Linked DNA regions of Homo sapiens. The protein of the gene in region 2 purifies or fractionates together with the protein of the main gene of each other region. This does not show direct contact. Each region holds a gene or a part of one and is shown on either strand. Other genes may lie near its edges. The genes, in order: ADD1 and FAM78A.

What was found.
Region 1: the proteins of FAM78A (region 2) and ADD1 purify together in Homo sapiens (affinity purification with mass spectrometry, with the first as the bait; one large-scale study listed by BioGRID). This does not show direct contact.

What each region holds. Positions count from the first base shown.
Region 1 is NC_000004.12:2,899,197-2,903,004, forward strand, and holds part of ADD1 (alpha-adducin), read left to right. Parts: intron 1-62; coding exon 63-239; intron 240-3,808. UniProt on the Homo sapiens protein: Membrane-cytoskeleton-associated protein that promotes the assembly of the spectrin-actin network. Binds to calmodulin.
Region 2 is NC_000009.12:131,274,246-131,278,153, reverse strand, and holds the start of FAM78A (protein FAM78A), read left to right. Parts: upstream 1-1,643; 5' UTR 1,644-1,974; coding exon 1,975-2,297; intron 2,298-3,908.

The DNA.
Region 1 (3,808 bases), on a different chromosome or scaffold from region 2:
GTCATCTGACCCTCTTGATCTCAGTAAGGAACTCAAGCCATGCTGTGTGTGTTTTGGAAAAGGTTCGAACTCTGGCCAGTGCAGGAGGACCAGACAACTTAGTCCTGCTGAATCCTGAGAAGTACAAAGCCAAGTCCCGTTCCCCAGGGTCTCCGGTAGGGGAAGGCACTGGATCGCCTCCCAAGTGGCAGATTGGTGAGCAGGAATTTGAAGCCCTCATGCGGATGCTCGATAATCTGGTAAGAATGGTGCCACCACTTGATGATAAACCTTTTGTTCTAAAAGCATCAGTGTTGGTGTTCTTACAGCAAGTGCGATTGCTGTCTTTTATGCAGTATCTGAATACCTTCACCTTCAAAGTCATGAAGAAGCACTAGGGTTGTTTAACTTCTGAGGTAAATTACAATAAAATGTAGAGGTGAAGGATTCCTGGTATTGTTTTATTTTTTAAAGATAACCTTGTGTTTGGACTCAGTGGGGACAAGAGCACAGAGAATGCGTAGGCAGCTGGATGACCAGCTGTGTCAGCTCAGTCCCCACCATCCCACAAGCAAGCGAGAGAGGTGGCACTTTTGAAATCGGTCAGTCAGGTATTTAGGCTTTTGTCTTAACAGCAAATCCTGGCTGTCTGGGGCCTGATGACTGTGTTCCATGGGTATCCACTCCCTGTCCACAGCGTGGGAGCCCCTCAGCTGCTTATTGCAGGGACACAGAGCCCGGCATGGTCCAGAAGGCGGGCTTATGGGGCCTGCAGCACACAGGGAAAGTGAGCCCACACTGTGATAGGAGGGCAGACACACAGGATGTGTTCTGTGTTACAGGGTTGCCGTGAAGAATTTCATTCTTTTGCAAGGACTGGAGAGAAAATTTTATGTGGAAGGTAGCCCTTGGAAATGACCTCAAAGAATAGGTAGGATCTTAGCCTGCGTTTGAAAGCCTGGAAAAAAACAGGATGACAGGATGAAGAGGCCACAGCACAGCTGCAGACAATGGGAGTGGGGAGATGGGAACATGCAACGTACGGTGCACCTTTCAGGTTCATCTTGACTTTACCAGGATCATTAAATACTCAGTTCTTAGAGCTGTATTAGAACACTGCCCTTGGGGTCTCAGTCCCGCAGCCACATCATCAGACACAGGGCTCTGGAACAGATCCCTTCCATGCTGCACATCAGACCTCTTAGATGGGGGTCACGATGGTCCGTCCTAACGCCACATGACCTCAAGTGGTGTAGATGTGAGGACATGTCAGTGTGGGGAAAGAAGGCCTCAGAGGGGCCAGTATCCTTGTATGCTGCCAGCCAGTACTGGACAAGTGGGCACGTTCCAGCCTAAGACAGGCGTGGCCCTTGGACCAGATCACAGATGAGATGGGTGGCTTCAGGAAGCAGGGTGGCTTCAGGAGGCAGGAAGTTTAACTTTCCTGAAGGTTTGGAATAAAAAGTATTCATAGGTCTGATTCAGGCTATGTTAAATGTTCTTACTGAAATTCTTTGCACTTGGGATGAATATTGTCCGCTAGAAAGGAGGAACTGAGGGTTTTCTGCCTGGGCGCGATAGTCAGTCAGTGGAGTAGACTCAATCAGTGACACAGGGACGAACAGAGAAGGCAGAGTCTAGCGTAACTTTTTGAGTTCATATAATCAGTGAGGTTGATTGCATTAATTGACTGTCTACTGTTGAGTCATGAACAGGACACAGTTCTTGCCCTCAGGAGTTTATGACCTAATAAGAGAGATGGACAAACGATTCCCAAATGAGCCCTGCCCCTGTGATCTGTGCAGTCATAGGCATGATGAGAGCTTGCAGGCAGAGGTGGGTGCCGATTGGTCAAGGAGGTAGGAAGAGGAGCAAAAGCTCATGAAGAAGGCTGAAGAAGCAGTTAGAGTTGGGTGGCCAGCCAGGGTAGTGAAGCTGCAGGGACTCATAGATGGAGAAAGCTTGAGAGTGGGGCAGCCATGGCCCAGGTGTGCGTCAGGAGCCAGGTCATCCAGCATGGCTGTGCAAGGTAAGGAGGGCTGAGGTTGGCCCAGTCACACAGCCCCTGCCTCCTGGTAAATACGGCGACATTTTGCTGCTCTTCTACTTACAGTCAGTGTGAGGGAGGAGAGAGGGGGGTCAGAATGCACAGCAGCCACCAAAGACTGTGCTGAAAGCACATCCTAGAAGGCGGAGAGGGGGAAGTCAAAATCAGGTAGAAACTCTGATTTGGTAGGGAAGGAAGATAAGGATGAATGATTAATAAGTAAAACATTCATTACAAAAAGCATGATGAATGTTTACTCAGTGTCCTTAATGTGTACAGATTGTTTTAATATTAGAAGGCCATATAGTTTATAAGAAATAAACTAGACAGCAATCACTAATCATAGTCCATGTTTTAATTTAGCATCGGGGTTGGCATATATGTTGTTTGCTAATAACTGAGTAGAGAATAGTTGCCAATTTCCACACTATAATATATGTTGCAGCCGAGCACAGTGGCTCACTCCTGTGATCCCAGCACTTCAGGAGGCTGAGGTGGGAGACCAGGAGCTTAAGACCAGCCTGGGCAACATAGCGAGATTCCTCTCCACAAAAAATAAAAAAATTTCAAAAAGAGAGATAATATTTCATTTGAACTTCTACAGTTAGAAAAAAAATGCTAAATTGTCCCCCCCCCAAAAAAAATCAAGATATAATTTCAGTTTCTCAAAGAAGGAACAAATCCATATATATTTTCTCTTTCTTTTTTTTTTTGGAGAGACAGGATGTCATCATGTTGCCTAGGCTGGTGTTGAACTCCTGGGCTGAAGCAGTCCTCCCACCTCAGCCTCCCAAAGTGCTAGGATTATGGGTGTAAACTACCACGCCTGACCCAAATCCATGTTTTTAACTACAAGCCAGATAGTAGTTCTGAGGTCTGAGTATTACTTCTGGTTTTGGTTTAACAGCATTTAAAGGGGAAGAATAAAGAAAAATCCATATGGTTTCAGGATAAAATGATGTTGATGAGTCCTGGGTGGTTTATTCTGAAGTTGTGGAGATTACTGAGTTCTGGCTCTTTAAGCAAAAGGAAACTTGAATTAATAAGAACTGTGTTTTTCTGCAGATAGTCTTTATGGCAGAGTCATTCTCTTTTATTATTCCTCAACAAAGCATGCTCAGAAATGGGAAAACTGCCAGTACACACATTTACCTTATCTTTCTGAGGACAATTATGAAAATAAAACCCAAAACAACTCCATTCATGATTGTTATTACCTTTTTAAAAAAATGTAGGCCGGTCACGATGGCTGATGCCTGTCATCCCAGCACTTTGGGAGGCCAAGGCAGGTGGATCACCTGAAGTCAGGAGTTCAAGACCAGCCTGGCCAACATGGTGAAACCCCTTCTCTACAAAAATTAGCCAGGTGTGGTGGAGGGTGCCTGTAATCCCAGCTACTCGGGAGGCTGAGGTAGAAGAAGCACTTGAACCCGGGAGGCAGAGGTTGCAGTGAGCCAAGGTCGAGCCACAGCACTTCAGCCTGGGTGACAGAGCAAGACTCCATCTCAAAAAAATAAAAGGAGGCCGGGCGTGGTGGCTCATATCTATAATCCCAGCACTTTGGGAGGCTGAGGCAGGTGGGTCATGAGGTCAGGAGATTGAGACCGTCCTGGCTAATACAGTGAAACTCCGTCTCTACTAAAAATGCAAAAAATTAGCCGGGTGTGGTGGCACGTGCCTGTGGTCCCAGCTATTCAGGAGGCTGAGGCAGGAGAATAGTGTGAACCTGGGAGGCGGAGGTTGCAGTGAGCCAAGATGGCGCCACTGCACTCCAGCCTGGGC
Region 2 (3,908 bases):
GGGAGCGAGGGATTACCAGGGGGAGGGCGGGCTGTGTGCGGGGAGCGAGGGTGGAGAGCCAGGCGGGCGGGGAGGAGGAGGCGGCGCCCGCCCGCCGCCGCCGCCGCCGCCTGCGGACCTGCATCCCCGCGGGGCCGGCGAGCGGGCGGCGGTCCCTGCGTGCGCCGGCTGCGCTCGGCCGGCGGCGGCGGCGAGCGGACGCGGGGGCCGGGCCGGCGCAGGGGCCGAGTTTCTGCAAAGTTTGACCCGGTTGCCTTTCCGATGCTGCAGCAGAGCGAGGCAGCGCGGGGCGCGCCAGGCGGCAGCGGCGCGGCGGCGGGGCTGAGCGGCGACAGCGCGCTCACAATGATCATAAAATAAAGGAGGCGCGCGGGGTGGGGGCGAGAGAGCCCCGAGCCTCAGCCCTCCGCCCCCGGCCGCCCCCCCGAAGCCCCAAGCCGGGAGGAGGGTGGGGGCCGGGGGCGCCCACGCCGGCCCCAGACTCCAGTAGAGCCAAGGGACAGTGCCCGGGGAAGGGGGTGGGGGCGCCCCAAGAACGTGCCCGCGGCCGGGTCAGGGGCGTCCGGAGAGCGGCTGCCCGGGCCAGCGGAGTGGCCCCCGGGGCAGGTGAGTCGGCGGCGCCGCCCGAGTGGGGGCGTGCGCGCCAAAGTTCCCCGGCAGCGGCGAGCGCGCCCGACGCGTGGGGACCCGGGGCTGCTCGCGGCTGGAGAGGGGCGACAGAGGCGCTTGACGCGGCGGAGCGGGGGCACTATGCCCTCCGAGGGCCGAGGGACCCCAGCCGGGAAAGGGGTGCCCGCCGGATCCGACGGCACTGGTGGGTGGCCCTGCGCCCAGGGAGCCGGAGGGACCGGGGTGGGGAAGGGGCACCTGGCGCTGGCGGCGCGGCGGTGGGGACAGAGCAGGGCAAGTGCTCGCCGCCCCCTGCAGCGGCAGCCGCTCGCCCCCCACCCCGCCCGTCCGGGACGGTATCAGCGGAGATGTCACGGGCGGCTATTATTCGCTGGTGCGCGCGGTCGTGCGGCCGCCACTGACGGGGCGGGCGCGGGGGGCGGGGGCCACCGCCTCCGGGGAGACCGCCCAGAGCTGCGCCGTCAGCTCCGCAGCCCGCGCCCAGCGCACACGCGTCGCCGCCCCCGCGCGCCCCCCGCAGCAAAGTTCGGCTTAACTTTGAGGCTGGCCTTGACGCGCTGTCCCTTCCACCTCCCACCAGGTCCTCGGCGGCCGCGGCGAAGCAGGCGGCGGCGGCCGGAGCGCAGCCCCGGGACCCTGCACGGCGGCCGGCAGCGACAGCGGCGAAGGGACGCGGCGCCCCTGCGTGGGGACGTCCGGCCCGCGCCCGCGAGTGGGCGCCGACGGGGACCCGCGCCGCGCTCCCCCGTCACCGGCGAGCGGCCGGAGCCCTGAGCTCGCCTCCTGGAAGCCGCGGGTCGGCGCTCGCCCCGAGGGCGCCGGGACCTCGGCCGGGTGAACACAAACTGCTCTGCAATTGATTCGACCGCGCCGGGCGGGTGCGGGTGCGGGGCCCGGAGGGAGCGCGTGCGGAAGGCCGGAGGGCAGGAAGTCAGGCTTCTGCCGCGAGGGTGGCGCGGCCGCGCGGGGACAGAGCCTTCCTTATTTATGAGTCTGCCGGCGCTCGCCTGCTTCCTCCGAAGACTTCAGGGAGAGTCTGCGAGCTGCCGTCCCCGCGTGTGAGGCACAGAAGGGCTGGATGTCAGAACCGCATAATTATTCATTAAACTACAAACTTTTTTTAACCCAAAGAATATCGGTGATTTTTGTCCACTGCGAGGAGAAGAAGAGAGAGCCCAGGGCTCATGAAATGCAGCAGAATCCTTATTTATAAACAGGCCGCGGTAGTGATATATGCAACCCCAGTCTACTCAGTGAGTTTTCTATCCTATGGATATCGGTCTTGAGAGTTGAGATTGGAGAGCAGCGCCGTCTGTACTGGGTCCTGCAGCCTCTGTCCTTTCAATGCCTGGTTTTTTCTGTGACTGCTGGCCTTCCCTGGAGATCAGAGCGCTCCTGTATGCCATGGGCTGTATTCAGAGCATCGGAGGCAAAGCCAGAGTCTTCCGGGAAGGGATCACGGTGATTGATGTGAAAGCCTCCATCGACCCCGTCCCCACTAGCATCGATGAGTCCTCCAGCGTGGTGCTCCGCTACCGGACACCCCACTTCCGGGCCTCGGCCCAGGTGGTCATGCCGCCCATCCCCAAGAAGGAGACTTGGGTAGTTGGCTGGATCCAGGCGTGCAGCCACATGGAGTTCTACAACCAGTACGGCGAGCAGGGCATGTGAGTACGGCCGAGAGCCAGCTCTGGGAACTGCTAGGGATGGCCGAGCTTGGAGGCCTGGTGGGGGGCCGCGGATAGGGGGAAGGTGGAGATACCATGAAGACAGGACGGAGGCCAGAGGGAAGCTTTAGGCAGGTATGCAGGTGGCCTCATTGGCCCGGTGGCTCCCTGAAAAGTTTGCCTGTGGATCCAGATTGGAGTCACGGTCCTGCAATCTACCCTGCCACTGTTCCCCCCGGGTTCCTGTGTCCTTCCCTGCAAGATGCCGAGAAAGCAGAGAGACATTACTCCCAGTGTTTCCTGGCAGAGCAAGTGTGCCGTCCGCCTGAGGAGTGTCTGTGCCATCAGGGGTCACCAGAGAGGCTGCAGGGCTGCCCTCCAGGCCTCTGGCCCTGTGCGGGCCCATGGCAGACATTCAGGCACTCTGCAACTCCCAGACCGGTGTGTTCAGGGCTTTGCGATTGGGCCTCAATTATCTTTCTGGCTTTTACCAGTGTATGCCAGGAGCTGGGGGAGTGCTTCCCCGTTCCAAACGGCACTGTGTTTGAGAGCACAGTTAGTTTTAGAAGCCCGATTTCTTCACAGTGTATCGCTTTCTGTCTCCAAGGCAGAAGACCGCTTTATGCAGACAAGTCCAGTGTCCCTCTGGCGAGGCCCTAACAGGAACAGCAAAGAGGAGCCTCTCCTCTGCAGCCCCAAAGCCCGGTCTCCAGAGTGTGCCTAGGGTATTGGGGGTCCCGGTGAGGACCCTGGGACCCTGGGGCTCCTTTCCTGGCCTGCTTCCTGACCCCAGAGAAGGCCGTCCCCAGGGTGAAAAGAGCTGCATTTAGGCAGAGTTGGGAGAGTGACTTAATCTGAAGGTTCACCCTAAGACAGGGATGGTGAAAATAGCTGTTTCTGAGCGTAAGGACCCTTTGGAGAGAGCTAGGCAGGCCCCGGCGGGCAGCCCACCCATGCGGCCCCGTGACTGGCCGCTGACACTCCCAGAACCTCTCTCAGTGTCTACCCTGTGGCCCCGTGACTGGCCGCTGACACTCCCAGAGCCTCTCTCAGTGTCTACCCTGTGCAGCTTCACGTCCCCGTTTTGCAAGTGGGGAAAAGAGGAGAATTTCCCCAGGAGCTGGAACTTATCACAGATTTAAGAATCTCATGGGCCACCTGTAAATGAGAGGGGTGGAGGATGGCGGGACACCAAGTCTGGTGGCTTCTCTACTTAATGACTCCAAAGTTCTAAAGGAAACATGAGGATCACAGTAACCCTTAAGTCCAGCGTGTGACAGTGACTGTCCCAAAGAGGTACATGGGGGGCACATCTAGAGGCTCTCACCGGCCCTCTCCACCAGCCTGATTTCTGTGCCAACCCCTTTGTGTCTCAAGAGCAGCTAGTAATCCAGTTCGGGGGAGGGGGTGCTGCCTTTCTGTTCTAAGCAGGGAAACATGATTCTTAGTTATGCAGTGAGGACCTTTTCTAAGAACGCTTAAGCCCAGAAACCTCCTCGGGCTTTGAAGGCATCGGGACAGTTGTAGAAACAAAAGTTTTCCTCGGGGTTTTGGGCTAAGCCTAGTTTCTTCCCTGGAAGGGGTAAGGAAGCCAGTGGGTTCTTCTGAACT